Homo sapiens: one gene and its partners. The protein of the gene in region 1 purifies or fractionates together with the protein of each later gene. This does not show direct contact. Each region holds a gene or a part of one and is shown on either strand. Other genes may lie near its edges.

What was found.
Region 2: the proteins of SIGLEC5 (region 1) and KLHL8 purify together in Homo sapiens (affinity purification with mass spectrometry; 2 studies listed by BioGRID and IntAct, with this or other methods). This does not show direct contact.
Region 3: the proteins of SIGLEC5 (region 1) and METTL13 purify together in Homo sapiens (affinity purification with mass spectrometry; 2 studies listed by BioGRID and IntAct, with this or other methods). This does not show direct contact.

What each region holds. Positions count from the first base shown.
Region 1 is NC_000019.10:51,625,456-51,636,599, reverse strand, and holds the start of SIGLEC5 (sialic acid-binding Ig-like lectin 5 isoform 1 precursor), read left to right. Parts: upstream 1-6,198; 5' UTR 6,199-6,264; coding exon 6,265-6,301; intron 6,302-6,383; coding exon 6,384-6,767; intron 6,768-6,963; coding exon 6,964-7,242; intron 7,243-7,523; coding exon 7,524-7,562; intron 7,563-8,508; coding exon 8,509-8,766; intron 8,767-8,853; coding exon 8,854-9,138; intron 9,139-9,351; coding exon 9,352-9,451; intron 9,452-10,486; coding exon 10,487-10,568; intron 10,569-11,144. UniProt on the Homo sapiens protein: Putative adhesion molecule that mediates sialic-acid dependent binding to cells. Binds equally to alpha-2,3-linked and alpha-2,6-linked sialic acid. The sialic acid recognition site may be masked by cis interactions with sialic acids on the same cell surface.
Region 2 is NC_000004.12:87,215,940-87,226,611, reverse strand, and holds the start of KLHL8 (kelch-like protein 8), read left to right. Parts: upstream 1-5,993; 5' UTR 5,994-6,194; intron 6,195-6,343; exon of another isoform or gene 6,344-6,577; intron 6,578-8,424; exon of another isoform or gene 8,425-8,518; intron 8,519-10,672. UniProt on the Homo sapiens protein: Substrate-specific adapter of a BCR (BTB-CUL3-RBX1) E3 ubiquitin ligase complex required for The BCR(KLHL8) ubiquitin ligase complex mediates ubiquitination and degradation of RAPSN.
Region 3 is NC_000001.11:171,789,575-171,799,333, forward strand, and holds the end of METTL13 (eEF1A lysine and N-terminal methyltransferase), read left to right. Parts: intron 1-877; coding exon 878-1,042; intron 1,043-2,442; coding exon 2,443-2,661; intron 2,662-4,821; coding exon 4,822-4,953; intron 4,954-6,907; coding exon 6,908-7,182; 3' UTR 7,183-8,142; downstream 8,143-9,759. UniProt on the Homo sapiens protein: Dual methyltransferase that catalyzes methylation of elongation factor 1-alpha (EEF1A1 and EEF1A2) at two different positions, and is therefore involved in the regulation of mRNA translation.

The DNA of each region.
Region 1 (11,144 bases):
GGTGGAGATGAGGGTGGGACCACACATGGAGTTACTCATCACTCCGAAGGGACCCTGGAGCCAAATGGAGAGGAAACACCCATTACCTTCTCTCAAAAAGGTGCTGCCTTCTCCTTTCAGGGACCTGAGACCCATGACTGCTACCTCACTCCTTGTCTCAGTGGTCACCTTTACTTCTGGGCTTCAGGTGCTCTGCAGGTGCCCTTCAGTTTTCCCCTTTGGAAGCCAGAGAAACATGGAGAGAATCAGCCTCCTTAGCATGGCTTATGGGAGCTGGAGTAGGATGTCAGGGTCCTGGGGAGAAAAGACCTTTGGATGTGCAGGTCCTGTGGAGGCAAGACCTCAGAGAGGTAGAGCTCAGTGTCTGGGCCAGGGGTCAAGTTTTCAATCTTTCTCTTTATAAATAGTGTTATTGGCTGGGCGTGGTGGCTCACACCTGTAATCCCAGCACTTTGGGAGGCCAAGGTGGGTGGATCATGAGGTCAGGAGATCGAGACCATCCTGACCAACATGGTAAAACCCCGTCTCTACTAAAAATTCGAAAATTAGCTGGGCGTGGTGGGGTGTGCTTGTAGTCCCAGCTACTCCGGAGGCTGAGGCAGGAGAATCGCTTGAACCTGGGAGGCGGAGGTTGCAGTGAGCCAAAATCACGCCACTGCACTCCAGCCTGGGTGACAGAGCACGACTCTGTCTCAAAAAAAATAATAATAAATAATAAAAATAAACAAATAAATAAATAGTGTTATTTATGTTTTGCTCAGAAATCCTACCTACCTCAAATTCATGGCGATTTCCTGCTATATTATTTTCTAACAGCTCTATTGTTTTCTTTGTCATATTTAGACCTTCAAGCTACCTGTACTTGACTTTTATGCATGAGCTGGGAGTCAAATTTCATTGCAAACTTACTGCAAACTTGATTGCATTAAGTTTTGCCCACAGATATTTTTTGAAAAGTTGGCCGGGCCCAGTGGCTCATGCCTGTAATCCCAACACTTTGGGAGGTTGAGGTGGGAGGACCGCTTGAGCCCAGAAGTTTGAGACCAGCCTGGGCAACATAGTGAGAACCTGTCTCTACAAAAAATTAAAAAATTAGCCAAGCATAATGGTGCATTCCTGTAGTCCCAGCTATTTGGGAGGCTGAGATGAGAGGAGTGCCTGAGCCCAGAGAAATAGAGACTGTGGTGAGCCCTGATCACACCATTGTACTCCATCCTAGGTGACAGAGACACTGTCTCAAAAAAAATTAAATAAATAAAAACCCAAAATAAATAAAAAGAAAAATTTATTATTTGCCACTTCCTCTATCACACTTGATGTTTCCTGTGGTTGAGGTCTATTTCCAGGCACTCAATTTTGTTCCACTTGGTCAATACATAATTGTCACTTTTTTTTTTCAGACAAGGTCTCACTGTGTCACTTTGTCACCTTGGATGGAGTGCAGTGCTGCAATCTTGGCTCACTGCAACCTCCACCTCCTGGGCTCAAGTGATCCTCCCACCTCAGCCTCTCAAGTAGCTGAGACTACAGGCATGAGCCACCCATGCCCAGCTAATTTTTGTGTTTTTTGTACAGATGGGGTGTCACCATGTTGCCCAGGCTGGTCTTGAATTCCTGGGCTCAAGTAATCCTTCTGCCTCGGTCTCCCATAGCGCTGGTATTACAGGTGTGAACCATTGAAATGGGCCTATTTTCTCACATTTTTAAAAATTTGAGACAGTCTCACTCTGTCACCCTGGGTGGAATGCAGTGGCACAATCTTAGCTCACTGCAACCTCCACCTCCTGGGTTCAAGCAATTCTTGTGCCTCAGCCTCCTGAGCAGCTGAGATTACAGGCACATGCCACGATGCCCAGCTAATTTTTGTTATTTTTTAGTAGAGACAGGGTTTCACCATGTTGGTCAGGCTGCTTTCAAACTCCTGACCTTAAGTGATCCATCTGCCTCGGCCTCCTAAAGTGCGGGGATTACAGATGTGAGCCACTGTGCCCCGTCTGAAATGGTCATATTTTCTGTAATGTTATGATACATCTTTTTATCTTGCAAAGCCATTCATTGTTCTTCATGGTTGCCTTGACCATACTTGAACATTTCTACTTCAGTATAAATTTTACAATAGAGTTACCAAATTGCACAAAAATCACCCGGGAGATTGTATGACATATTCCTTTGATGCTGTAGATTGTTGGGTAAAATTGGCATTCATACAATATTGTTCTCAAACTCATCAACATGGCCTCTTTTTCAGTTTATTTACATCTTGATTTATTTATTTTTTATTTATTTATTTTCTTGAGACGGAGTCTTGGTCTGTCGCCCAGGCTGGAGTGCAATAGTGCAATCTCGACTCACTGCAACCTCCATCTCTCAGGTTCAAGTGATTCTCCTGCCTTGGCCTACTGAGTAGCTGGGACTACAGGTGCCTGCCACCACACCCAGCTAATTTTTGTATTTTTAGTAGAGATGGGGTTTCACCAGGTTGGCCAGGGTGGTCTCGAACTCCTGACCTCAGGTGATCCACACGCCTCGGCCTCCCAAAGTGTTGGCATTACAGGCGTGAGCCACTGCGCCCAGCCTATTTACATCTTTAATGTCCTTGAATACAGATTTATAATTTCCTCCATAGAGGTGACATATACATATTTTTGTTAGATACATCTCTAATAGTTAGATATATTCCATATATTCAAAAATTATATCATATTTTTTGATATTGATAAATTATATCATAATTTTTGAAGCTTTTGTCAATGGCATTTTTATAAAATTCCATTTTTATTACTGTGATGTGGAAAGACAACTGATTTTGTAATTTGATTAATCTCTGGCTGTCTTGCAAATATTTTATTAAGGCTTCAAATGTATCCGTATATACTTTTGGATTTTTCTTTTTTTTTTTTTGAGATGGAGTGTCGCTCTGTCGCCCAGGCTGGAGTGCAGTGGTGTGATCTCCACTCACTGCAAGCTCCACCTCCCAGGTTCACACCATTCTCCTGCCTCAGCCTCCCGAGTAGCTGGGACTACAGGCGCCCACCACCACGCCCGGCTAATTTTTTGTATTTTTAGTAGAGATGGGGTTTCACCATGTTAGCCAGGATGGTCTTGATCTCCTGACCTCGTGATCCGCCTGCCTCAGCCTCCCAAAGTGCTGGGATTACAGGCGTGAGCTACCACGCTTAGCCTGGATTTTTCTATATGTGCAGTCATGTCATTGATAAAGACCTCTGTTAAAATTTCATTGTAATTGCTGTACCTTTTGCTTATTTTTATTGCCTTATTATGCTAGGACCTGAAGCTACTTCATTAGGTATATGATGTTTGCTGAAGACACCCTTTATCTTGTTTGGGAAATTCTCTAAAGAGAATTTCTAGTTGGCTATGAATTATATCATAAAGGGATTTGAAATCACCCAATGCTCACTTATTCATCTCTTGAGATTTAATTAGTTAAGGCTGATGTGAAAACAGAAGCCATACTATGTATTTTAGGAGAGGGAATTTAATATTAAGATTTTAATATAAAGATAAAAATACCATTTTCCTACATAATCAAGTCTTTATCTTTAGATCCTACTAGCCGGTATGATGAATTACTTTCACAGTTCAAATGAGGAATAAAGTTCAGAATTTGCAATAAGAAAAAGAAAAAAGAAAAAATTATTCTGACACCTGTTAACATTGACTATTCAGGATGACTGAGACAGGTATCAAGACTAGTGCAGGCCAGGCACAGTGGCTCATGCCTGTAATCCCAACACTTTGGGAGGCAAGGCAGGGAAATGACCTGAGGTCAGGCATTCGAGACCAGCCTGGCCAACATGGTGAAACCCCCATCTTTACTAAAAATACAAAAATAAGCTGGGCATGGTGGCATGCACCTGTACTCCCAGCTACTCAGGAAGCTGAGATAGGAGAATCGCTTGTACCTGGGAGGGGGAGGTTGCAGTGAGCTAAGGTTGCACCACTGTACTCCAGCTGGGACAACACAGTGAGACCCCGTCTCAGAAGAAAAAAACAGAAGTCAATTAAAAAAAAAAAAAGACTAGTGCAATAATGGAGATAGGTCAGGCTCAACTCGGAATACAGCAAAGACCAGGGGGGTTTATGGGCAAGAAGCATAGTGCAGCAGGTGAGGGAGGCTGGCCGTGTGTGTTAGTGGACGGAAAACTACTAAGAGGAGACACTGAAGATACCGGGATTCTTTCTAAACTGACTTAACAGGATTCTTGCTGAAAGCAGGCCAGCATGATCAGATACCAAGGGTGAGGGCTAGGGAATTTGATCAGATAGTGAAGGCGATCAGATATCAAGAGTCTTGCAAAACCAACTTAGCAGGATTCTTGCTACAGCTGGACAAGGCAGTCCCAAGGACAAAGCCTAGTTGAAAAAAGGGTTCAGAGGAGCTTTCATAAGTTTGGTTAAGAAGAGAGTCTTTGTGACTCTTTAGAAAAAAAAATACAAAAATACAAAATTTGGCACACATAGGATGATTTTTGGACTGAGAAAACACATCAAATCACAAAATCTAAAATGTCAAAATATGAGACAACTCAGAAAAATGGCATACTATGTTTGTTAATAGTATAGTCTACCTGTCTGCTACACCTGCATACTTTTTCCCTATATTTTTGACTGATTTTCTTTGATTGCCTTCATAATGGTGATAATTTTTTTCTTTTTGAGACAGAGTCTCACTTGGTCACCCAGGCTGGAGTGCAGTACCGTGATCTTGGCTCACTGCAACCTCTGCCTCCTGGGTTCAAGTGATTCTCCTGCCTCAGCCTCTGGAGTAGCTGGGACTATAGGTGTGCGCCACTATGCCTGGCTAAATTTTTGTACTTTTAGTAGAGAGGAGGTTTCTCCATGTTGGCCAGGCTGGTCTCGAACTCCTGATCTCAGGTGGTCCACCCGCCTCCTCCTCCCAAAGTGCTTGGGATTACAGATGTGAGCCACTGTACCCGGCCAATATTGGAGAATAATTTTATAATACAATTTTTATAGATAGAATAGAAAGAGAAGTCGGTATTTCTTCTGGCATGGGTGGTTGACGTTTGTTTTGATCATTGATAGTTTAAGAAACTGTCTTTATTCTCACAACACATTAATCGGAATGTGAAAAATTTTTAATATATTGTTAAATTTTGGGAAACTATTATGAAATTTCTTTCATAAAAGAGCAGTAACAAGGCAGGTTATTTCCACACATTGCGTGGGCCCCTCCTGGGCATCTGAAAAGTGGATCCTGCAAGGGAGGGCATTGAAGATTGAGCTTCATCAGCCTCACAGTGGCAAATTTGCTTCTGTAGCTCCTTAATAGGATGAGGCTTTAGCAGGGCTTGTGTTTCACTGCCGTCCCACAAGACCCTCAGGTCCATCAAGACCCAAAGTGGACTGTGCTGTGTCCCAAGAATCTTCTTAACATAAGAGTGCTTCAGCTCTCTCATGCTCTGACCCTCCACGAAATTTGGGTCAAAAAAATTTTTTTTCAGCCCTTTTGAACTTTTTTTTTTTTTTTTTTAAGGCAGGGTTTCACTCTGTTGCCCAGGCTGGAATGCCGTAGTGCGATCACGGCTCACAGCAACCTCAAACTCCTGGGCTCAAGGAATTCTCCTATTTCAGTGCCCCGGAGGAGCTGAGACTATAGGTGTGCCACCACACCAGCTAATAGTTTTTATTTTTTGTAGAGATGGTGACTTGCTATGTTGCCCAGGCTGGTCTCAGACTCCTGGGCTCAAACAACCCTCCCACCTCAGCCTCCCGAAGTGCTGGGATTACAGGCATGAGCTACCATGCCTGGTCACTTTGAACATTTAAAATCAAATTTAAAATTATGTATTTCCAGAATGTTTCATGGTTTTTAGGTGGAGGGTGGTTCTGACATCTCACCTCATCACCAGGACAAGCCCTTGTTTCTCTTTTCTTTCTGCATTCAGCCCCCTGAGGATCTCACTCATGACTGAAACATCATTTGAGGGGTGATCACCTCCAGATCCTCAGCTGGACAAGCCTCACATCGTCTGGGGGCCTCAGTATCTTCACCTGCGGCGTCCAGTCGGGGTGGGAGCAGAATGGCTTCCCAGCCCCCGCCTCACCCCAACAGCACGTGATGCCCAAGTTCCCCTTCTGTGCGCGTCCACAGCTCTCACTCACCCTCCGGCTTCCTGTCGGGGCTTTCTCAGCCCCACCCCACGTTTGGACATTTGGAGCATTTCCTTCCCTGACAGCCGGACCTGGGACTGGGCTGGGGCCCTGGCGGATGGAGACATGCTGCCCCTGCTGCTGCTGCCCCTGCTGTGGGGGGGTGAGTGAGCTGAGGGAGGAGGGACAGGCACAGGGGTGAGAAGGGGGGCTGGAGCTGCAGCTGAGCTTCTGTGTCCCCCCAGGGTCCCTGCAGGAGAAGCCAGTGTACGAGCTGCAAGTGCAGAAGTCGGTGACGGTGCAGGAGGGCCTGTGCGTCCTTGTGCCCTGCTCCTTCTCTTACCCCTGGAGATCCTGGTATTCCTCTCCCCCACTCTACGTCTACTGGTTCCGGGACGGGGAGATCCCATACTACGCTGAGGTTGTGGCCACAAACAACCCAGACAGAAGAGTGAAGCCAGAGACCCAGGGCCGATTCCGCCTCCTTGGGGATGTCCAGAAGAAGAACTGCTCCCTGAGCATCGGAGATGCCAGAATGGAGGACACGGGAAGCTATTTCTTCCGCGTGGAGAGAGGAAGGGATGTAAAATATAGCTACCAACAGAATAAGCTGAACTTGGAGGTGACAGGTATGGCAGGGACCCCAGGAGAGGACCCTGGGACGTGGAGACCCCCGTATGAGAACAGGGACAGGAGTTGGGCAGGGGCGGCTGGAGGAGGTGTAGGACTTGGGGCAGGTCGGGGCCTGAGGCCTGGCCACTCTCGGGGTCACACCTTACGTCCTCAAGCCCCTGGGGCCCAGGTATCTCCCTGTCTCCTCCTCAGCCCTGATAGAGAAACCCGACATCCACTTTCTGGAGCCTCTGGAGTCCGGCCGCCCCACAAGGCTGAGCTGCAGCCTTCCAGGATCCTGTGAAGCGGGACCACCTCTCACATTCTCCTGGACGGGGAATGCCCTCAGCCCCCTGGACCCCGAGACCACCCGCTCCTCGGAGCTCACCCTCACCCCCAGGCCCGAGGACCATGGCACCAACCTCACCTGTCAGATGAAACGCCAAGGAGCTCAGGTGACCACGGAGAGAACTGTCCAGCTCAATGTCTCCTGTGAGTGGTGCTGGGGACACAGCTGAGTCCTCAAGGGCAGTGGGAGTGAGGGGTGTGTGTGTGTGTGTGTGTGTGTGTGTGTGTGTAAGGAAGACAGAGAGAAACAAAACAATAACTTGAGAAACCTTGTGTGTGGATCTAAGCCTTGGGATCTGCGGGGAGTGAGACAGGACAGCCTTCCCCGCTTGGTGGGTTTCTGTGGCTCCTCTTTGGGTACCTCCTGGGCCCATGCCCATCTCACTCCTCACTGCTGAAGCCAAGTTTATATCTTTTTATCCCAGATGCTCCACAGACCATCACCATCTTCAGGAACGGCATAGGTAGGAAAGACCTCCTCTCTGAAGCTGGGACCTGCCTCTGGGTCTGTCTCTGAGCAGAGGTAGAGAATCAGAGCTTGAATGCAATCAGATTTGGGAAGAGCAAGAATGAGAATTACTGCCTTCTGGCTTCCACCTTCTGTGAGCCCCATGTGCAGGCACATATGCACACACGCACATACACACGCACACATGCACACACGCACACACACACGCACACACACACATGCATATACACCACACACATACACATGCAATACACCACACACACACGCACATACACACACACATGCACACAGGCACACATGCACACACACCACACACATATGCACACACACACATACACCACACAGGCACATGCACATACACACGCACACATGCACATACACCACACACACATATGCAGATACACCCACACACGCACACATGTACGTACACCCGCACACGCACACACACACGCACACAGGTGCACACTCATGCACTCTGCTCAAAGCAGTGAACAGACTTTAGACCCCACCCATCTCCCATCCCTCCTGTGGTCTGGTTCTTTCCACAGTCACTAAGGACCACTCCATGCCCCTCTCATCTCAGTCAGCCCAGCTCTGTGGTTCTTCTCTCACCCTTCCACTCCTGCATCCTCAGTCTTATTTCCTGTCACATTAGCGGACTGTATTTCCCAACGCCACCGGGGGCTCTCTGTCCTCTCTCCACCACAGTCCAGGCATGTACCAGTGAGATATTGAGCCTCCTCTGGAGACATGAGACTCAGACACTTTTGGTCAGTTTCCTGAGTGTGCAAAGGCCCAGCCTTTGAACCAGGATGCAATCAAGCCAGCATAGGCCAGGGGAGGAGAGGGAGATGTCATCTGGATCCTGGGAAGGAGGGAAGGATAGGGACTGTCAGCCTCCCTGGCCCCATCTCTCTTTCCCCACCCTTCTCTCCCCAAAGCCCTAGAGATCCTGCAAAACACCTCATACCTTCCGGTCCTGGAGGGCCAGGCTCTGCGGCTGCTCTGTGATGCTCCCAGCAACCCCCCTGCACACCTGAGCTGGTTCCAGGGCTCCCCTGCCCTGAACGCCACCCCCATCTCCAATACCGGGATCTTGGAGCTTCGTCGAGTAAGGTCTGCAGAAGAAGGAGGCTTCACCTGCCGCGCTCAGCACCCGCTGGGCTTCCTGCAAATTTTTCTGAATCTCTCAGTTTACTGTGAGTGTGGGGGCAGCTGGAGCAGGAACTGCATGGTATTAAAGAAGGAAGAGGCCCCCTGCTGAGTTCTGTCCTCCCTCCCCACAGCCCTCCCACAGTTGCTGGGCCCCTCCTGCTCCTGGGAGGCTGAGGGTCTGCACTGCAGATGCTCCTTTCGAGCCCGGCCGGCCCCCTCCCTGTGCTGGCGGCTTGAGGAGAAGCCGCTGGAGGGGAACAGCAGCCAGGGCTCATTCAAGGTCAACTCCAGCTCAGCTGGGCCCTGGGCCAACAGCTCCCTGATCCTCCACGGGGGGCTCAGCTCCGACCTCAAAGTCAGCTGCAAGGCCTGGAACATCTATGGGTCCCAGAGCGGCTCTGTCCTGCTGCTGCAAGGTCAGGGGGCGTATTGCAGAGGGCAGGGGCCTGAGGGGAGGGGCATGGATCCCAGAGTGATGGATGGTGGGAGAGAGAGGCTGGACTGGTGGTGGGGAGACAGGGTTCTTCATCTCCTGTCTGAGCAGGGCCCTGGAGCAAGTTGCCCAGCAGGTGGGAGGACAAGAGTCTGAGTCCTGGGAGTGAGTTATTGCACGCCCCTCTTTTCTGCAGGGAGATCGAACCTCGGGACAGGAGTGGTTCCTGCAGCCCTTGGTGGTGCTGGTGTCATGGCCCTGCTCTGTATCTGTCTGTGCCTCATCTTCTTTTTAATGTAAGTCTTGGTCCCAGGGAAGGTACAGGGTGGTGTTTGTAGGGAGTAGGAGAGACTGAATCTCAGAAACACAGAGCTAAGGCCAGAGGTGGTGATGTGTGCTTGTGGTTCCAGATGCTCAGGAGTCTGAGGCAGGAGGATCACTTGATCATGGAGGTTGAGGCTGCAGTGAGCCAGGATTGTGCCAATGCACTCCATCCTGGGCCTCAGAGTGAGAGACCCTGTCTTAAAAGAAAAACAAAACAAAACAAAAAGCAGAACTGAGTAGATCCAGAGAGGTCTTCTTTCTTTTTTTCTTTTCTAATAGCTTTATTGAGATACATGTTTTGTACAATTCATCCACTGAAAGTGTACGAGTCAATGGCTTTAAGTATATTGACAGAGTTATGCATCTGTCACCAAAATCAATTTTAGAACATTTTCATCAGCCTAAAGTGAAAAACGAAGACATAAAGAAACCTTGCACCCCTTAGCTATCACTCCTGCTTCTTTCCCCCAGCCCTAACCTATTCCATGTCTCTGTGGATTTGTCTGTCCTGAAGTTGCAGTTGTACTTTGTGTGAATGGAATCACGCGATATGTGGTCCTTTGTGGCTGGCTTCTTTCACTCGGCCTAATGTTTTCAAGATTCATCTATGTTGTAGCATGCATCGATACTTCATTCCTTTTTGTTTTCAAATAATATTCCATTATATAAATGGAACGCATTTGATTTGTGGGTTCAGCTGTTGACGGGTACTTGGGTTGCCTCTGCTTCTTGGCTATGATGCATAACACTGCTATGACCATTCCTGCCATGGTTTTGTGTGTAAGAGGGGGTCTATATGATGGAAATTCAGTCCATGGCCACCCTGACCAAATCCCTGGTTATCCAGGAGGATGGAGCCCTCACTCCGAAGTCAGGAAGGTCTCCGAGTTTAGTTCCGGGGCCTGGATGGCTTCATTGTCATTTTCACCATCTTAGCATGGGATGGGACAACCCGCTAACCCGTGCCTGGGTGGTCCCAGCTGCACTGTGCTGGTTTCTTTCCTTAGAGTGAAAGCCCGCAGGAAGCAAGCAGCTGGGAGACCAGAGAAAATGGATGATGAAGACCCCATTATGGGTACCATCACCTCGGTGAGTGGTTTGGGGATCTTCTCATGTGCATGTCCACTCGGAAAGTCCAGGCTGAGCTCTTCAGCATTCCACCAAACCCACTCCTCCCTCATCACCTGGGAGTTCTCTTCTCTCCTGTTCTCCCCCTTCATATCCCAGAGCCAGGAAATCATTATGTCCCATTCAACCTTCTTTGTTTTGTTTGTTTGTTTGTTTGTTTTTGAGATGGAGTTTCACTCTTGTTACCCAGGCTGGAGTGCAATGGTGCGATCTTGGCTCACTGCAAACTCCACCTCCCAGGTTCAAGCGATTCTCCTGCCTCAGCCTCCCAAGTAGCTGGGATTACAGGCGCACACCACCATGCCCGGCTAATTTTTGTATTTTTAGTAGAGACGGGATTTTGCCATGTTAGGCAGGCAGTTCTTGAACTCCTGACCTCAGGTGATCCGCCCGCCTCGGCCTCCCAAAGTGCTGGGATTACAGGCGTAAGCCACCGCGCCCGGCCACCAACCTTCTTTCTAAAAGTAAAACTAACTTGTCCTTTGCTCATCTTCCCTCCCCACCTCTACTGACCACAGAGCCTGCCTCACTTCCTCC
Region 2 (10,672 bases), on another chromosome or scaffold:
AATAATATATATATTATTTATATATATAGAGAGAGAGAGAGAGCGAGAGAGAGACAGAGTCTTGCTCTGTTGCCCAGGCTGGAATGCAGTGGCGCGATCTCAGCTCACTGCAACCTCCGCCTCCTGGATTCACGCAACTCTTCTGCCTCAGCCCCCAAGTAGCTGGGACTACAGGCGTGCACCGCCATGCCCGGCTAATTTTTGTATTTTTAGTAGAGACAGGGTTTCACCATGTTGGCTAGGCTGGTCTTGAACTCCTGACCTCAACTGATCCACCCACCTTGGCTTCCCAAAGTGCTGGGATTACAGGCGTGAGCCATCGCGCCTGGCCTAATATAGAGCTATATCTTAATGAAAGAAGTACTTTTCACAGACATCGTACATTTGGAATACAAATTGCAATGGAAACACAATTACATTTGTTTCACTGTGCCAATTTCTACCATACATATGGATACAATTTTGCTCAGAAGTATGTGGCACATGTTTCAAAAATAGTTACTGAAAATCAAAGTTTCTCTAAATGTGTTTTTTTCTGGTAACTAAAGTCACAGTTCTTGAATGTGGTAGGGATGGAGGCAAATTGCTCTCATTCTGTCATTTCTCATATTGCTCCGGAGAGAATTCCACAGTTCCCCCACATATTCAGCCTGAGAATTCAACCCTATCTAGGCAGGTTCATGGGAAATGGAAACTGATTAGACTTGGGTATGATGGAGTAATAAAAATAAAATGCTAAAAATGAAAACAAAACAAAAAAACAACAACACCCGCATTTCAAAAGTCACCAGCACTAGTAATTTTCAAAAGAAATGATTTAGAGCACCAACAGAACTAGCAGTGGTCATAGCAAGGATGATGCTTTCTGTTTTAGCTTCACCCACAGACCCACCCCCAAACTACCTAAAATAGATATTCAGTGGAAACAATAACTGTGTGCCTGTAAAGATATCTTCAAGTAATGTCCTCTAACCCAGAGCTGCACCCCTACTCCTTTCATTCCAAGTTTTAACTCAAATTCTGTCTTATATAGATATTTTGGAGCCACCAGTGAGACTTGACTATTGTCCTTTAGGAAGCAACAGAGACCTTATGGCCCCAAACCCTAAAATATTTACTGCCTGGCCCTTGGCAGGAAGTAGTTACCGAATGGTTGTTTACTGAGCAAAGTTGATATGCATCCATTTATAGTCCAAGTATTTATTAAGCATCTATACATCAAGTACTATGCTGTTATTTTCTATTTAAGGAGATTTCAGACAAATGAAAGATATAGACAACTTCTTAAAATGCTCACTAAGTGCTACTTTAGGGGCAAAAATAAGTTGTAAGATGAGCATATATAGGAGGCAGTAACCCAAAACTGGAGAGGGGGGACTGTAACCAAGAAAGGTTTCCTAATTAAAAAGTTTTCTAAGTTAATACTAGATGATTAGAAAGAGTTCACCAGGCAAAGGGGTAGAAGGAACAGCAATTACAAAGACCCACAGAAAAATTGGGAACTTTAAATATTTCAGGGATGCTGGGTGCTGTGACTTGAGCCTTGTAATCCCAGCCACTCCGAAGGCTAAGGCGGGAAGCTAAGGCAGGAGGATCCCTCGAGGCCAGGAGTTCAAGACCAGCCGTGGCAACATAGCAAAATCCCCCCATCCCCGCACCCCACCAAACTCCACCCCATCCATCTCTTTAACAAAATAAAAACAAAAACAAAACAACAATATATATCAGAGAAATATATCAGAAAATGGTCAGCAAAGGTTTAGAGATACCTATGTCAGGCTGATTGCATGGTAGTGGATGGAAGAACTGTCATTAATTTATTAAAACAGCACAAGTTGAGCCACCAGCCTAAGGTCAGAAAACATAGCCATCCACATGTGTGTCTTAGGATAAAAGGCGGGAAATGATTGTTGAGGGAAGCTGAAGTGCCACAGTAAAGGCTGGTTTTGTAGGAGGGTGACAGGATAGGAGTCAAAGGATTGGGATGAAATGTAACTGCAAGCCAGTAACCCTGACCTGGACAGGAAGATAGTGGTCTTGCTGGCGGTGTTCAGGCTCTTTAAGTACGTTTCCATAGACAAAGAACCTTAGCAACTCTTCTGGGACCTGCTCTCTGGTTGCAAGCTTTGCCTCCCTAGCAAATGAAGATAAAATAACCTTCTTCATTAATCTTTCCAAATCCCTCGGCAAGCCACATCTGAAATTCTTTCCCTGCTCCCCGACTCCTTTAAGAGAAAGAAAAATTGTCTGGCTCTGTCATCCAGGGAATGAGCCACCATATCCAGCCCACATCTGAAATTCTTTTGATGGTTATAAAGCCTTTTATCCCAGGATTAAAGATAAAGACTTAAAATGCAAATGTTGGCCGGCGCGGTGGCTCATGCTTGTAATCCCAGCACTTTGGGAGGCCGAAACCCAGCTACTCAGGAGGCTGAGGCAGGAGAATCACTTGAACCTGGGAGACGGAGGTTGCAGTAAGCCAAGATCGTGCCATTGCACTCCAGCCTGGGTAACAAGGCGAGACTCCATCTCAAATTTAAAAAAAAAAAATGCAAATGTTGATTGGGGTTAAAATATTGCAATTTTTTTCTGACTAAAGTACAATCATAAAATGAACAAACAGCTATCAGATCCTTTCCAGTTTTAATTTATCGGACTTTGAGGGAAGGGAAGGAATTTCTTAGATCCTTACTTATTATAGGCTAGTCTTGCTTATTCTCAAATGGAGCTAGGGAGGAATGGGTAAAAACTAAGAAGACATTTCGTCCGATTTAGGAAATGTGTGTTTTGTTTTAGTTGAGGTATGTCTTATTTTGTAAGATACTGTATATATTTTTAAGTAATTATTTGAGAGCATTGTTACAGATATATCACTTTTTAGGGAAAGATTTTTTTTGCCCCAGTTTATAGCTATTTGGTTTAAAAATTTCATTTAATTTTCAGAATTTTTGCCAGACTCCTCTGCCCCAATAAAAGGCTCTAGATTAGGTGTATCTTAGGTGCTCCCCAAACCCCTGGCCACCCCATGCATACCTTTTCATTATTCACTGTTTAATTCTCTGTCTCCGAGTCTAGATCCTAAGTCTCCATGAGAGCAGGGACTATTCAATTTTGTCTACTGCGTATTTCCCAGTTCCTAGCTCAGTGTCTGGTGCTCAAAAAATGTTCTTCGATAAATAGATGATAATAATATTGAAATATTGTGTATATTTCTTTGATTTGTTAGTAACTACAAATAGTTTATTGTGTATATGTCAATTAGCAGAAGAAAAAGAGCAGTTGTGCTCTTTTTTATAAGCATTTTTAGGAGTTACTGTGCACCTTATTACAAGAAAAGTGGCCAGGAATGGTGGCTTACACCTGTAATCCCAGCACTTTGGGAGGCCAAGAAAGGCAGATCCCTTGTGACCAGGAGTTTGACAACCAGCCTGGGCAACATGGAGAAACCCCATCTCTACAAAACAAAACAAAACAAAACAAAACAAACAAAAAAATTAGCCAGGTGTGGTGGTGTGGGCCTGTAATTCCAGCTACTCGGGAGGTGGGAGAATCACCTGAGCCGGGGAAATCAAGATTACAGTGAGCCATGATTGTGCTACTCACTGCACTCTAGCCTAGGCAACAGAGTGAGACTCTGTCTCTAAAATAAAATAAATAAAATAAAATAAAAGCTTAGGCTATAAAAAACAAAATTTCTATTAACATGGTCTTACTAAATACATATTGTAGGCCGGGCGTGGTGGCTCATGCCTGTAATCCCAGCACTTTGGGAGGCTGAGGCGAGTGGATCACTTGAGGTCAGGTGTTCGAGACCAGCCTGGCCAACATGGTAAAACCCTGTCTCTACTAAAAATGCAAAAATTAGCCGGGCGTGGTGGCAGACACCTGTAATCCCAACTATTGCAGAGGCTGAGGCAGGAGAATCACTTGAACCTGGGAGGTGGAGGTTGCAGTGAGCTGAGATTGTGCCACTGCACTCCAGCCTGGGCGACAAGAGCAAAACTCCGTCTCAAAAAAATAAAATAAAATAAATAAATAAATAAAATACATATTGTGTTTTATGTTTAATAAAGGGAATACAGGGAAGCTTTCCCTTTTCCCTTGGAAGGTTCACTGAAAAATCAACTGTCAAATGGCAGACTAATAGGAAAAAAGACATACAAAATTTATTTTAATGTGCATAACACAGGGAGATTTCAGGAGAATGATTACCCAATGACTCAATGGGGTAGAGACGTTTATATACTCTTCTTTATGGGGGAAAGGGAGATTGGGGAAATGTGGCAACTTAAGGTATAGTAAAGGACTTTTAGGGGAAAATGGGGAACATACAATGGCCTGGGAAAAAGTGTGTTGAGCCCATACAGCAGACAATAGTTTGTGACAAAAGTCTGTCCAAGAGTGTTGACAGACTTCAGTCTTTCTTCCTCCAATATGAGTTAAGTAAATGAAAAATCAGGTAAGGCAAATATGTTCCTCTTTGGCAGGTCTAGTTTCTAGGCAGATAAGGGAAATTCAGAGAACGACATCATTTGGTGCTTTGGGAGAGACAAAGAATTGAGAGGCAGGAGGGGTAATGGGGAAGGTAAGAGACACCTTGAAGCTGCTTCCTCAGTTCAGCGCGGCAAAGCACCATATTTTGGGGTATCGATTTCTGAGTCCCAACAATTTTTACATCACGTTCCAGACACATTTTATGACTTTTCTTCACTGCATACTTCTTTAAAACTCATCTTACTCTATTTTTCTAAAGGTATTTGCATTAAATGTGCAAAATACTAATGCTCTAAAGAGGAATATTTTGAAATATTAAGAATTATTTATATTTCAATGTAAAAAATGTGATTTTTTTTCTAGAAATAAAATTTCAAATTCAAATAGTTGCTTTGGGGTTTTTATAGAAGATGCATATATATATACAGATATATATATGTTCATTTCTATTAAAATCAATGTGCTAATGTTCATATGTGTTAATATTAATAAAGGTCCTAGGATTAAATTTATTCTGAAATAGACTCCTAGGATTGTGAAAGTTTGAGGTTAGTCTGGCAAAAGACACATTTAGGGGAATATCTTTCTTTAAAAAAAATTTTGTTTTTTTGCTGTCTCTTGATCTCCCGCCTCACACATTCCACTTTATTGACATTATAGAAAAATTAATTCATTTCAACAGCACTTTTACTTGCATTGCTTTTTTTTTTTTTTTTTTTTTTTTTAGACGGAGTCTTGCTCTGTCGCCAGGCTGGAGTGCAATGGCACAATCTCAGCTCACTGCAACCTCCGACTCCCGGGTTCAAGCAATTCTCCTGCCTCAGCCTTGCGAATAGCTGGGATTGGTGGCACGCACAACCACGCCCAGCTAATTTTTGTATTTTTAGTACAGACGGAGTTTCACCATGTTGGCCAGGATGGTCTCGACTCCTGACCTCGTGATGCGCCCGCCTCAGCCTCCCAAAGTGCTGGGATTACAGGCGTGAGCCACCGCGCATGGCCACTTGCACTGCTTTTTAGCAGCGAGCTCTCAGGTCAATCAACTGCTTCCTTAGGTTTACAAACTGTGGGTGTGTATTTATAAACACAGTTGTTTTGTATATCCTTTGTAGAGCACGTGGTGAAAGTGACACAGGAATAAATGCAAACCTTTTTTTCCCCTTCTTTTTTCAAAGACATAAATCCCAGGAACACTCACAACCGCAGAAGGGGATTTGATGGACATACAAAGAAACTAAATTTTGTACCGCCGCAGAAGTGAAGCATGGATAAGCTCAAAGGTATTTAGGCAGTGTTTTATTTCAAGATTTGTTATGGGGACCTCCGCCACGCCCTGGTCCGCCTTCACCAGGCCGGGCAACACTGCCCAGTCCCTGAGACCCGGCCGCCCACTAGGGAGCCGCGGGGGCGAGGCCGTGGGGGTGGCCTCGGGGAGGAGGTCCCGAGAACCACACTTCCCAGAGTGCCGTGCGCAGCCCCGCCCAGCCCGCCCCGCCCCCAGAGGCCGCGGCTCGCGGGGGCTGAGGCGAGAGGACGCCAAGCGCCCGCCGGGGCTCCGCGGGGCCGCGCAGGAGAGCGCGCGTCCGCCGGGTGCTCGCGCGGGGTTGGTGAGGTTCCGCTGAGGGCGGCCGGGGCTCTGGGAGCGTGGTAACGTGGCTGCAACCTTAGCGACATCAGGAAGAACAGGGTCGAGGATCGAGGTAACGGGACGCTCGTCTCCCCTCAGTCCCCTCGTCTCCCCTCAGTCCCCTCTTCCTTTGTGCGGTGCCGTCCGCTCGCGCCGAGCCCTCCCTCACCCCAGCCCCCAAGTCGCAACACCGTCCCGTCTTGGGTCTCCGGTGTGCGGAGGAAATTCGAGCCCTCGTGCACCAACCGAAACTCCACAGCTGAGAGGGCTTGGGGCCCGGACAGCAGGAGATCCAGCCCCTGAGCAACCTTCCACGGCTTTTGTCGCCCCCATTGGCGGGAGGAGCAGGGTTATGCTCCCGGCTCCCGTAGGGGAGCTCCAGCCTCTGGCTCTGTCAGCCTCCCCGGCAGCTCCTTGACTCCTTCCTCCCAGTCTTTCGAAGAGGGGCCCAGGCAGGTGCTTCGCGGGGTCCAGGAAGAGGGCAGGCGCGGTGCGGCTGGCGCGGGTTCGGGGCCCCGGGAGGGCGGCCGGACGCCCCCTGGAGCCGCGGCCTGCGGGGGCGGGGCGAGTGGGCCACCTCCGGGCCACGCCGCGCGGGGACGAGGCGAGGAAGGCACTGCCTGTCCCCACTCGGGGGGCTTGCTGGCCGCCCTGGAGGTGCCTTCCCGGGAGCGGCGGTGTAGACCTTGTGGAGAGTGCCTCCTGATGTGGAACCAGGAACCGCAGCCTCTTTCTAGACGCTCAGCCGCCCGGTGGAGTTGTTACCGCCACGATGACAGCTCTTTACGCCTTCCACTCCGTGCTGGGTTCAGTTGGCTTGCTGTTTTCTTCAGAGAGAGCGATTTGGCTACATAGCTTGAATTTTCTACGTGTCTCGTGCTTTACTGGACTTGCACTGTTTTTCCCTCTTGGCAGTGTTTAATCGGGTGACTTTTCATAGAAAACGTTCAGTATTTTCATCTGTGTTAATGGCATAACTTTCTTCTTGACTCTGCCCTAAGCTAATGTTACCAGTTTAGAGGGATACTTTGGGAAAAGGTCCTTAGAACCTGGGTTGACATAAGTATTTTATCTGCTGGTTGCACGTTTTTTCCTTTGCATTGTTTTTCTCCTATACAAGATGGTAATTGTTGGACTCTTGGTGTTCTTTATTCTCTCTCTAGAAGGAAATCCTCTTCGCGCATCTTTCTCGTGTTCTGGCCCTGCGGTACTCTTGGGTACGCAGAGGACTGCTGCTAACAGTGCTGGCGCCTGGAACGCTGCTTGGAGATGGCGGTGGCATTAAGCTGCTGCTTTTCCTCAGACTTCCTCCTGGCACCCTTCTTAATTTGTCAAACTGACCCAGTTCAAACTTCAAACTTTTAGTCACTTTATTTATTTCGTCACTTTTTAAAAAAATTGCTTTCAAGATACCAAAATTGCGTAAGCCTAAATATAAAAAGAGGTGTCTCAGGGGCCGGGTGCAGTGGCTCACGCCTGTAATCCCAGCACTTTGGGAGATTGAGGCGGGGGGATCACTTGAGGTCAGGATTTTCGAGACCAGTCTGGCCAACATGGTGAAACCCCATCTCTACTAAAAATAACAAAAATTAGCTGAGCGTGGTGGCACATGCCTGTAGTCTCAGCTACTCGAGAGGCTAAGACAGGAGAATGGCTTGAACCCGGGAGGCGGAGGTTGCAGTGAACCGAGATCATGCCACTGCGCTCCAGCCTGGGCGACAGAGTGAGACTCCATCTCAAAAAAAGAAAAAAAAAGTCTAAGGATACTCTATTCAACTACATATGAGCACTTAGCTTCATCATTTTAATTTTTAAAGCTGCCAATTCTTTTAGCATTTGATAAGATTACTGATAATTGGTTAAGATGATATATTCTGTAATAATTGCACATTTTTTGACAAGAAACTCAGTTCACATTCAGTGAGGGTTATTTTTTAAAAACAGTATTTCTTCATTCATTAAGAAGAAAGTTAGGGCCGGGCGCGGTGGCTCACGCCTGTAATCCCAACACTTTGGGAGGCCGAGGCGGGCGGATCAAGAGGTCAGGAGATCAAGACCATCCTGGCCAACATGGTGAAACCCCATCTCTACTAAAAATACAAAAAAATTAGCTGGGCATGGTGGCGCATGCCTGTAGTCCCAGAGACACGAGAATCACTTGAACCTGGGAGGTGGAAGTGAGCTGAGATCACGCAGCTGCACTCCAGCCTGGCAATAGAACGAGACTCCATCTAAAAAAAAAAAAAAAGTTGGGTAAATTTTGATCCCACCTGCTATTTTGAAAAATGAATTTTCTTTTTTAGAGCAGTTGTAAGTTCACAACAAAACTGAGTGGAAGGTATAGAGATTTCCCATGTATCGCCTACCCCTACAGAGCCAAAATCTCTCATCAGAGTGGTACGTATATTACAATTGATGAACCTACATTGACATGTTATCACATCCACAGTTAGGATTCATTCTTGGTGTTAAACATTCTGTGGGTTTGGACAAATAACCCTTTTGTTTTTATCAAGAACTTTTGAGAGTTGTAGAGAACTGAAATGGATATTGTCATTTTAAAAAGATTAAAGAGACTATTGCAGACATCTTAAACATTAATTTCAGATAGTTTTTGTGTTTTATAAATTGAATGTTTAAATTTTTGGTTACTTATATTGGAATTCCCAAGAGTCACATTTATTTTTGTATATTAAGAACTAAAGGGCCCCACATGGTAGCTCACACCTGTAACTGCAATTTGGGAGGTCAAGGCAGGAGGATTGCTTGAGCCCAGGAGTTTGAGACCATCCTGGGCAACAAAGTGAGACCTTTCTCTATATTCCAAAAAAAAAAAAAAAAAAGAGGCCAGGCTCGGTGGCTCATGCTTGTAATCCTAGCACTTTCAGAAGCCAAAGCAGGCCAATTGCTTGATCCCAGGAGTTCCAGACCAGCCTGAACAACACGGCGAAACCCTGTGTCTACAAAAAAACAAACAAACGAACAAAAATTACCCAGATGTGGTGGTGTGCACCTGTGGTCCCAGCTACTCGGGAGACTGAGGTGGGAGGATCACCTGAGTCCAGGGAGGTCAAGGCTGCAGTGAGCCATGATTGCATCACTGCACTCCAGCCTGGGTGACAGAGTGAGACCCTATTTCCCCCCACCCCCAAAAAAAGCAAGAGATGAGGGAGGATAAATGTTTCATAAAATAACAAAATGTTGTTTTCAGTCGCTAAAATTCACTTGACTATGTCTTTTTTTTTTTTCTGAACAAAATGGTTTATATTAGCCAAAGAAACAAGAGGGAGTTGAGCATTTTAAATAAATTAATTTTTGTTTACTCATGTCAAGATATGTCTGCAATAAAAATGTCACCCATTAGTCTATTTTTAAAAATTCTGTTTTCTCTGTTTTGAGGAGCTTTTATGGAAGCACCAGACTATAATATTGTTCTGAGCTCACTTCTGGTACTACACAATTCTCTATTAGAATCCCAGATCTCCACTTATTGGCTGTGTGAGCATGGCAAGTAATTTTCTAAACCTCTTTCCTTAGCTGTGGAAGGGGGATAAAAATAATACGTACTTCTATTTTACCAGAATTGAGGATTATTTGGTGTTGTATGTGAAAACATTCTCTAAGCTATAATCAACTATAATATTCATTGATATTACTAGTCACATGCTGTATTTTAAAATGCTGCCAGTACAATTTATTTTCTGGTGGATATTGCTATATAGATACTGTCAGCTGCTTTTTTTTTAAATGGGTTGGTCATGCAAGAAAGTATATTGTTTGGTTTGGTTATGAATGATTTAGTTGGTTCTTATGAGTCAGAGAGAGAATTATGGAAGAGGGTTGGAGGGACCTTGGGAAATTTTCTACTTCATCTCTCTGACTCTTAACCTGAATCTGTTAGCGTGAGCATAAATGGTCTTCCAAGGGTCTGTGAACTCTGTATATTTATACTTTTCTGGGGAGAAATTAAATGAAAATTTATACTTTTCTGGGGAAAAATTAAATTAAAAGAGCATCATGACCTTGTTCCCACTAAAGGTTTAGGAAACCACTAGCTTCAATGATCTAGGCAGGTTTCTTTAGTAAAAATGTTAGAGATTATTTTTAAAATTAGTTTTTTGTGGAAAGGAAAGAGAAACAGGTTATATTGCGGAAAGGAAAGAGAACAGGCTATTTTTGAAGCACTGAGTATCTGTTTTTCTTCCAAAGCTAGAAGTTGATATTTATGATACACTACCTTCATATGAATAATAGTGCTGCTACTTCTACCTGGAAGTGGTACCTTTGATTGATTCATTATCATTAGGCAGGTATTGTCTACTCCTCTCTTCTTCCCCACCCCCAGCCTTGATGGGCAATACAGTGGAGGCAGAGAATGGGACTTTAATACAATCCAGCATGTCAGAATATTATTTAAAATGCCAAAAGATAATTTGGCTTGTTTATTCTAAATTTGGATGTTCTTTGTTTTCACAACAAAACACCCAATGTTAAAGAAAATTAAGTGTTTAATCTTTCAAACTAGATGATGATATATACATAATCTGTTGT
Region 3 (9,759 bases), on another chromosome or scaffold:
ATGATAAGGTTGTTAGAAGAGCTAAAAAAATAAAAGTTACGGTATAGTAATTGGCACATAGCAGGTGATTAGTAACTTTACCTTTCTTTAAAAGACTTTATGAGTAATCTTTTCTCCTGTTAGTGGCCTTACATTTCTTAGACGGGAGGTACCAGGGCTCCTCAGTTGAGTTTTCCCAGGTTTTTGAGTGTGCATTTGCCATTTCCTTTTCCAGCTTCCTTGTATCCATTGTATATGTTAAATGTTTAATGACTATGTCTTTGTGGGGCGGGGTAGGGGGGGCACATCCTAATTTATAGTGTTTATCAGTTCTCTAGTATAAATACCACCACTGTATTTGTTTGTTTTACGTTGCTTATAAAGGAATACCTGAGACTGGATAATTTGTAAAGAAAAGACTTTTATTTTGGCTTATGGTTCTGCAGACTGTACAAGAAGCATGGTACCAACTTCTGCATTTGGTGAGGCTTCAGGAAGCTTACAATTATCACAGAAGGTGAAGGGAGACCAGGTACATCACATAGCAAGAGAGGGAGCAAAAGAGATGCCAGGCTTTTTTCAACAACAGCTCTAGAGTGAGAACTCACTCAATACCATGGGGAAGGCACCCAGCCATTCATGAGGGATCTGCCCCCGTGACCAGCATGGTGGCTCCGACATTGGGGATCACATTTCAACGTGAGATTTGTAGGGGACAAACATCCAGATGATTTCACTACGGCCAGTTTCAAGCTATCAACATGATGTCAACCAGTTTGCAAAATTTTAACGATTGGGTCTTTTGAGTGTTCAAGCCATCTGGAGCACACTGCTGCCAGTAACCCTTGCTTCCTGAGGACTAGTGTACTAAGCATAGGGCTTCATATCTCTTGTTTAGCCCAGAAGAAGCGGAAAAAGGACAGGAAGAAGCAGCGGCCTGCTGATGCGGAGGACCTCCCTGCAGCCCCGGGGCAGTCCATTGATAAGAGTTACCTGTGTTGTGAACACCACAAAGCCATGATCGCTGGCCTTGCCCTGCTGAGAAACCCAGAGCTACTCCTAGGTGAGAGAGATGCCACTGCCTTCCACAGAAGGGAGCATAAAGATTACAGACCTAAACAATTGGTGTCACTTGCATTGTAGTTGAAGAACAGCAATTACAAGCTGACAATGTATCTTTCTTCATCTCAACCATGTTATAAGTTAATGAGCATTCTAATTAACTGTTGCCTCAAACTCAACCTGTTATATTGAAATTGTATTGAAATATGTTAGAGTCTAAGTGGTATTTTTTCTGTTCATTTCTTTTTAAAATTAAGGTATATCATGTATTCAATGAGATATGTAAAAATACACAGATTTTAATTGTTCAGCTTTTCTGTAATGCATTATTTGAACAAAAGATGCAATTCTATCTTGAATTTCTACTTTCTGAAAAGATTCATATTATAGTTAATGCAGTCATAGCCTTATCGCTAATAGCAGGTTTGGATCTGACTGCATTAGTGAAATTGTTCATGTTTTGTCTGTGATTGTAACCGTTTTCACCTGAAGTCCCTGAATGTGCCTTCTTGGAATACCCTATACTTTTGTCCTATCTTAGTGTTGATGTATGTCACTAGAATCTCAGTTCTTAGATTTAATTCTCAGGGTCTGTCTCCTTCGGGTGACTTTTGTTGTCTTCCTTTGATCCCCCTGTGGTGGCTGTGCTCTGTGCTTAGGAGTAGGAGTTGGGCCTTTGTTTTCCTGTGATTTGTGGAACTTGAATGGCTTACCCTTACTTGGTGAGGGTGTCTGAGAAGACGGTGTGGCCTTTTGAGTCAAGGGCAAGGGACATTGCACCTCTGCTGCCTTGTAATCATGAGCAAGATTGTTTGGCCACTCTTCTTCCCTTTCCTAGAGAGGGTCTAATAATTCTTATAGTGAAGAAGTCTTTTTTTTTGAGACAGGGATTTACTCTTGCCCAGGCTGGAGTGCAGTGGTATGATCGCAGCTTACTGCAGCCTTGACCTCCTTAGGCTCCCACGTCAGCTTACCGTGTAGCTGGTACCACAGGTGTGTGTCACCATGCCCAGTTAATTTTTCTACTTTCTATAGACAGGATTTTGCCATGTTGCCCAGGCTGGTCTCGAACTCCTGAGCTCAAGTAATCTGCCCACCTCGGCCTCCCAAAGTGCTGGGATTACAGGTGTGAGCCACTGCCCCTGGCCACTTTGAGATCTTTAAGAGACAATAATAATAACACACTAGTTCATCTTCTGGATCTAGTCATCATGAATCCAGGATTCAGTTATCAGATGTCAAATTCACTCCTAGATTTCTGAAATGAGACAGGGAGACCTCTAAATCTTGTATCCCCTGAATGGAGACAGTGAGCTGACTTTCCCTTTTGCCTTCCCTGAGGCTGGTACAGAATTTTCCAGTGAACAGGTGGCAATGTGATGCTCTATTCTTTTCTTACAGAGATCCCACTGGCATTGTTGGTGGTAGGCCTGGGCGGGGGCAGCCTCCCCCTCTTTGTCCACGATCATTTTCCAAAGTCCTGCATTGATGCTGTGGAGATCGATCCCTCCATGTTGGAAGTGGCCACCCAGTGGTTTGGCTTCTCCCAGAGTGACCGAATGAAGGTCCACATTGCAGATGGCCTGGACTATATCGCCAGCTTGGCAGGAGGAGGAGAAGGTACTGCTCTTGGAGCATTTGAAGGGGTGTTGAGGGATGATTGATGCGACATTGTCAGGCCCGCAAGGGCCTCTACAGTTTATCTCTAAGAGAGTGGCATGAGTATCGTTCCAGTCTTCAGCCTGTTCATTTGTTGATATACTTATTCACTAGAGTACCAGCTATATGCTTAGCACTGTGTTAGGTGTGAATGTAAAGCAATAAGTAAAACAGGCCATTCCTGCCCTTATGGTGCTAACAGACCAGTGGGCTTTTTTCTGACCTGTAACCTTGTCATTTCCTCACCATCTTAAGAAACCTGAAGTCTAACTGGGCAAAGAAACAGAGAAGAAAAGGTGGAATGTGTGTTGGGAGGTATTTTTGTAAATATTTCAACTGGAGGTAAAGCCAGAAATAGAGCAAAACAGTATTCATGTAAGATCAGTGGTATACAACCTCAGGGTCTGACATTTGGTAATGTATGGAGACAATTTTTCATTGTCACAAATCGGGGTGGGGGATGTTGCTACTGACATCTAAACGGTAGAGGTCTAGGATGCTAGTAAACATCTTACAATGTTCAGGACGGGCACTGATGACAGAATTATCTGGCCCAGAATTTCCACAGTGCTCAGGTGGAGAAACCTTGATGCAGATGGTACTCTGTGGGAATTTTGATAGGCCTTCTGCAACTAGAATTAAGGTTCCATTTGCTCTAGTAATTTGCATCCCAGATTTAGGACAAAAACCATAAGCATAATAATTTTCTGTAAAATACTAGGGACAGTAACTCTGCTATTATACAGATAGGCTGCTGGTGAGTTTAGTACTTTCTGGAGCTCGAGTCCTTCGGGGAGAAGGCAGTTAGGTTGGTTCAGTTCTGTTCAGGACTGCTGGTCTGCTCATTCCATAACAGATACTCTGGTCTCACTAGATTAGAATATTTTCCAGTAAGGGTGTGGCAAACTAGGAGGCCTGGGACAAGTATTGAACAGATGCTATCTTAATTTTAATTGCAAACTGAATTGAATTGTAACAGTTTCGTAGGTTCCCTCTCTGAGGCTAGGGTTAGTTTAGGTGCCCAAGCCCAGATAGCTAATACGGTGAAGTATTTACAACAGTGCCATGCACATGGTAAGTACTTAATCCATGATGTTACTGCTGTTGTTATCTATAGATCAGTTTTCAATGGCTCTGCCCATCTTCTGTAACACCAAAATGTTTCAGATTACTGGAGGGCTCAAGGCTGCAAATGCAGGCTATTGTTTTCCTTGGACTTTGATGAGCCAACATGTTCTCTTTGTAAGAAACCAAAATCAGATCTGTGCTATGAACAATGATAAGCATGCAGCAGTCCTAATTAAATACTTATTAATTATTGAATAATTATGACCACAGTCTCAAAATTTTCTAAAAACCTGTCAGTGGCATTGCAGACCTACCCCTTATAAAAACAATTTAACATTATAGTAAGGAGCAGATCCATTTCTTCATCAGTTCTTTCTCACCCATTTAGCAAAATCATTTCTTTCTTGAGTCAGCTCTTGTTCATGGAACTGCAAAGATAACACTAACTGAAATTTCAGAACATTTTCTCCTATGAGGCAAAATGTGCTGTTTTCAGAGTTAAAAGTTACCATTTGCTGGGTCAGCCCTTAAAGGCTTAGTCAGCTGCTTTGTCTAGATCAGTGGTTCTCAACTCTGACTGTATTTAGAATTACCTGGAAAGCTCAAGAAAAATACCAGAGGCTTCCCATCTCTCCTCCCATCTGCCCCCTACTACCCCAGGATATTTTATTCTGTTGGTTGGCGTGTAGTACACATTAGAAGCTTCCCAAGGTGATTGTAATGTTCTGCCACAGTCAAAAGCCACTGGTGTTGATAGACTCTTAACCGAGAAATATTCATGCAAAGGGGACCCCAGTAATGTTTTTGCCTTTGGAAGGTGCTTTTAAATGTGGAAGAAGGTTCCATCTTTACTATGGGACACTCTGAACCCTGATGACAAAGACTCCCCTGGGCCATGACATCAGTGCCCTTACAGGCAAACCACATCCTCTGTGTCATCCTTCTAACTTAGTCACCATGCCCACCACTGGTAAAGAGGAGGTATAGTGTTGGAATGTAAATGGTATTATTTTATCCAGCAAAGACAAGGACTTGTTTCCTTCTTTTTCCCAGCACGGCCTTGCTACGATGTCATAATGTTTGATGTTGACAGTAAGGACCCAACACTGGGAATGAGTTGTCCGCCCCCAGCATTTGTGGAGCAATCTTTTCTACAGAAGGTTAAAAGCATCTTGACTCCTGAAGGTATGGAGAACAAAAGGTGGGAGAGGGAGGAGAGAAGGGACCATTAACAAAAATTATCTTTTTAATGAAAAATGCACAGAAGTGCGAGCTCGATCAATTTTTCCAAATTTAATACACCCATTTACTAGCACTAGACACAGAAAATTTCCAGCTTGCCAGAAAGTCGTATCTCTTATCCCCTTTCAGTAACTTGTCCTCGCAAGAGTAATCACTGTCTTAACATTTGTCCACCCAGCTTAATTTTGCCTGTTCTTGTTCTTTATATAAATGGAATCATATGGAATGTTGGAATGTTCCCTTTTTTTTTTTTGAGACAGGGTTTTGCTTTGTTTCCCAGGCTGGAGTGCAGTGGCCTGATCATGGCTCACTGTAGCCTCAAACTCCTGGTCTCAAGGAATCCTCCCACCTCAGTCACCTGAGTAGCTGGGACTACAGGTGGATGCCACCATGCCTGGCTAATTTTTTTATTTTTATTTTTTGTAGAGATAGGATCTCAACATGTTGCCCAGGCTGGTCTCAAACTCCTAGCCTCAAGCGATCCTCCTACCTTGGCCTCCCAAAGTGCTGGGATTACAGGCATGAGCCACTGAACTTGGCTGAATGTACTCTTTAAGTGTCCATTTTCTTTCACTCAACATGATGTTTGTGAGACTCATTCACAGTGTTGTGTTTACATGGCTTATTTTTATTGCTGTGTTATATCATGTAACTTAACACAATTCGCTTATCCATTCTACTGTTCGTATTTGGTTTGTTTCCTGTGTGGGTCTATTATAAGTGGTGCTGCCATTAACATTCTAGTATATGCCTTTTGATGAATTATGTTTTCAGATCTCTTGGGTATATACACAGGGTTGTAATTGCTGGATCATAGGTTATGGGTATGTTTTTGGCTTTTGTAGATGCTACCACACAGTTTTACAAAGTGGTTGTAGCAGTTCACACTCCCACCAGCATGGTGATGCTAGCTACTACATGATGCTTCCTACACGTGCTCTACTAGGCAGTGTGTTATTTAATCTTCATAGCAGTCCACTTTTTGGATGAGGAAACTGAGGTTGAAGATTTGCCAAGGTGACGCAAGGTAACAGTTGGGGCTCAAAGTCAGTGCCTTGTCACCTCAAAACTGGAGCCTTTAATCCCTATGTTAACAACCCTCTAGGTATTTTTGATTTGGTGTAAGGCACTGTGGTAACTGGCTTGATTTGGAATCTTAATTGTCAGAAGTCAAGATAACCTCGGCCCTGTCACTGGTTAATACTCTATGGTGTGTATGCCAAGAATGTAATATCCCTGTGGAGTTGGTAAATTTTACTTTCGTAGGGAATCACTTTCTATTGATTGATTGAGACAAAGTCTCATTCCGTCACCCAGGCTGGATTTTGGCTCACTGCAACCTCTGCCTCCTGGGTTCAAGAGATTCTCCTGCCTCAGCCCCACTAGCAGCTCCTGCCTCAGCCTCCCTAGCAGCTGGGATTACAGGCGTCCACCACCATGCCCAGCTAATTTTTATATTTTTAGTAGAGCCGGGGTTTCACCATTTTGGCCAGGCTGGTCTCAAACTCCTGACTTCGAGTGATCCGCCTGCCTCAGCCTCCCAAAGTGATGGGATCATAGACATGAGCCACCGTGCCCAGCTGGGAATCACTTCTTTCTCAAAGCTATTCTTTGAGAAGCTATTTGGGAAACTGAGGCTTGGAGAATGGTAAAATAACATGTGAGCAGCACAGAAGAGCAAGAAATAAGGCTGGAGTTTGTTTATGGCTCACATGCTCCCCATGCTTTTCTCCATCTGCCTTTCTATGCTGTGTATTCTCTGCAAACTCATCACCACCGTGTGTTTTAGTCCACCAGTCTCCCTGGGACAGGAATTGGTATTTTCCTCAAAGCCGATCCTTGTCTTTCATATGTCTCCTGATGTGAGGTCATTCTGACTTTTCTTCCTACCCTATAGGTGTTTTTATTCTCAACCTTGTGTGCCGAGACTTGGGGCTAAAAGACTCAGTGCTGGCTGGGCTCAAGGCAGTGTTCCCCCTCCTATATGTCCGGCGAATTGAGGGTGAAGTGAATGAGATCCTGTTCTGTCAGCTGCACCCTGAGCAAAAACTTGCCACACCAGAGCTCCTAGAAACAGCCCAGGCTTTGGAGCGGACCCTGAGGAAGCCTGGGAGGGGTTGGGATGACACGTATGTCTTGTCAGATATGCTCAAGACGGTGAAAATTGTGTGACTGCTTAGGCCAAGCAGCCCTCCTGCCTAGACTGACCTTGGACTCCCAGCCTGCCAGAGAATGAAGAAATACAACGCACAGTACTTTTGAAGCTTCGTATTTTTCTTGGTTTCACACTCAGCTACATGTGACCTCCAGCTTGGTGAGGTTGCCTGAAGATTAGGGAAAATAAAAATGTCCTTCCCATCTTGTCCTCTTCAGTACCACTTGGGTTGGTTTGTCTTTGCTTCCTACACCACGTCCTTGAGTGGAGTTCCCTGCTGAAGCCCCTAGCACACACTGCATGCCTTAACAAGTGTGTGCAAGCCCCTCAGAACTCAAGACATCCAAATTTTATTGCGTCTCTACTTATACTGGTTTGCTTTTGATTTATTCCTCTATTAGTTCTATAGGAGTGATCTCAAGTGAGATAGCAGAGCAAGATGCCAAAAGACCATAAATAGAGTAAGGTTTCTATAGATGTGAGACAGATTTGAGAGAGCATTTACTCTGTCTCCCTGTGGATGAAACTGCTGCTGAAATGGTTCCAATTTTTAGGAATCTGCTTACCCACTTCATTATTTGACAGCTTTCCTTGGTGACCCAAACCTTGTAGCCTAAGCCATTTGTCTTTTTCTCAGTGGAGGGAGTGTATGGACCTGGCCCCATGGCTTTGCATGTTAGAGACCTGGCAGACTAAAGTCTCTAGTGTTTGTTTGCTCACATTTGCTGAGTGACAGCTATGTGCCAGACTGCATAAAGGGTGGTGGCAGAAGTGAAAATGTTTAAGAATGACCAAAAACATTAGTAATGAAAGTTAATGTGTTCCAGGCATTCTTCTAAGTGGTTTACATGCACTGTCTCATTTAATCTGAGATAAAGGATACTTAAGCCCAAACTATATCTAAACCCAAATCTCACTTGGCTGGAAACATCAATCTTAACCATTTATTCAGAACCATTAAACCAATGATTCCAAGACTGGCTTGAATTTTGTCTTTCCTAATTATACCGAGGTTGACTTAATGAGCAGTGCCATGGAAAATAGGCATTGTCACCATTCACCACCTGGCTCTTCTTTCCACAGGCCCTTTAAAAATGGACCCTGACCTTTCAGTTGAAGCATACAGATGCTCTTCAGCCTACGATGGGGTTATATCCTGATAAATCCATCATAAGTAGAAAATGCATTTAATACCCTGATAACCCATTGTAAACTTGAAAAATTGTAAGTCAGAGACTGTCTGTATTTCAGTTAGGTTGTCATCCTTAGAAAGTAGTGTCAGTCTGTTAAGGAGAGGAGGGAGTGCAGAGAAGTGTTTTTAGATCTTACCCATTAGAAATACTTGGTTCTCTTTCTTTAGGAGGGGATCTTCCCCTGGAACCCCGTAACGGGAAGATTATCCCTCATGTCAGGTCTGTGTACCCCAGAGGACCTTACTTGGCAAGTCCTTTCTTTTTTCTTCCTTGTTTTTGAGACAAGGTCTCTGTCACCCAGGCTGGAGTGCATTGGCACCATCACGGCTCACCGCAGCCTTGACCTTTTGGGCTCAGATGATCCTCCCAACTCTCAGCCTTCCAGGTAGCTGGGACTACAGCATGTACCACCATACCTGGCTCATTTTTTGTAGAGACATCCACCTGCCTTGGCCTCCCAAAGTGTTGAGATTACAGGCATGAGCCACTGTGCCTGGCCACTCTATTTTTTTTTTTTCTCTTGAGCTTGTGCAGTGTCAGGATGGGTTATGGAGGCCCAGGGTCTGAGTCAGAGGAGCTCATCTGCCTGTCCTTGGTCAGATCACCCTCATGCTGTGCAGAGTTTGGAGCAGCACATTTGGGTGGCATGGCCAAGCTCTAGGCGTTATCAGAATAAGGTCTCAGTTAAATCTTAGGGGCAATGGTCTACAGAGGCACGAATTTACATGTCGCTTCCCACATTTGGAGGTGGGAAGAGACACTCATGGGTGATGATTATCAAGACTTAAGTATAAAAGAAGAAGGAAATTGGTTATGTGCTGAAGGCTGGAGAAAGACCAAGGGACAGAAGTGAGGCAGTTTTCGGCTTAATTTCCTACAAATGAAATTTGTACCAACGAAGACCAGTGTGTTCACCAGAACACTTGGTGGCTGCAGCCTGCTTACTCAAACCCTAGTCTGACTCCCCTCTGGAGCTTGCTGGATTGTGAGGAAAGTGGTGTGTGTACAGACAGCCATTGGCCTGAATCCCATCTTTTCCACTGGAGAGCTTTTCACTTTTGCCTTAATGACAAGCAAATGGTTCCTTATGGGAATTTTGCCTAACTTTAGGGGTGAGCGCTCTAGAGGAGGGGGGAGGGTTAGAAGCTTCAATGCCTACCAGACCAAGCAAGTAACAAATATGTGGAGTGAGTGAGCCAGGTATAAAACAAAAAGGCTAGGATGAGACCTGTGGCAAACCAGAGAATAAATATCCCCTCTAAAGGCAGCGGCTGTCCCAGCTGAGCTGTCTTGCAGGAGCACTGTCTTAGCATAGCTAGGTCTTTAAGAGAAGCCAGAAATCTCGTGCGTGTGTGCGTGTGTGTGTGTGTGTGTGTGTGTGTGTGTTGACATTAAAATGTT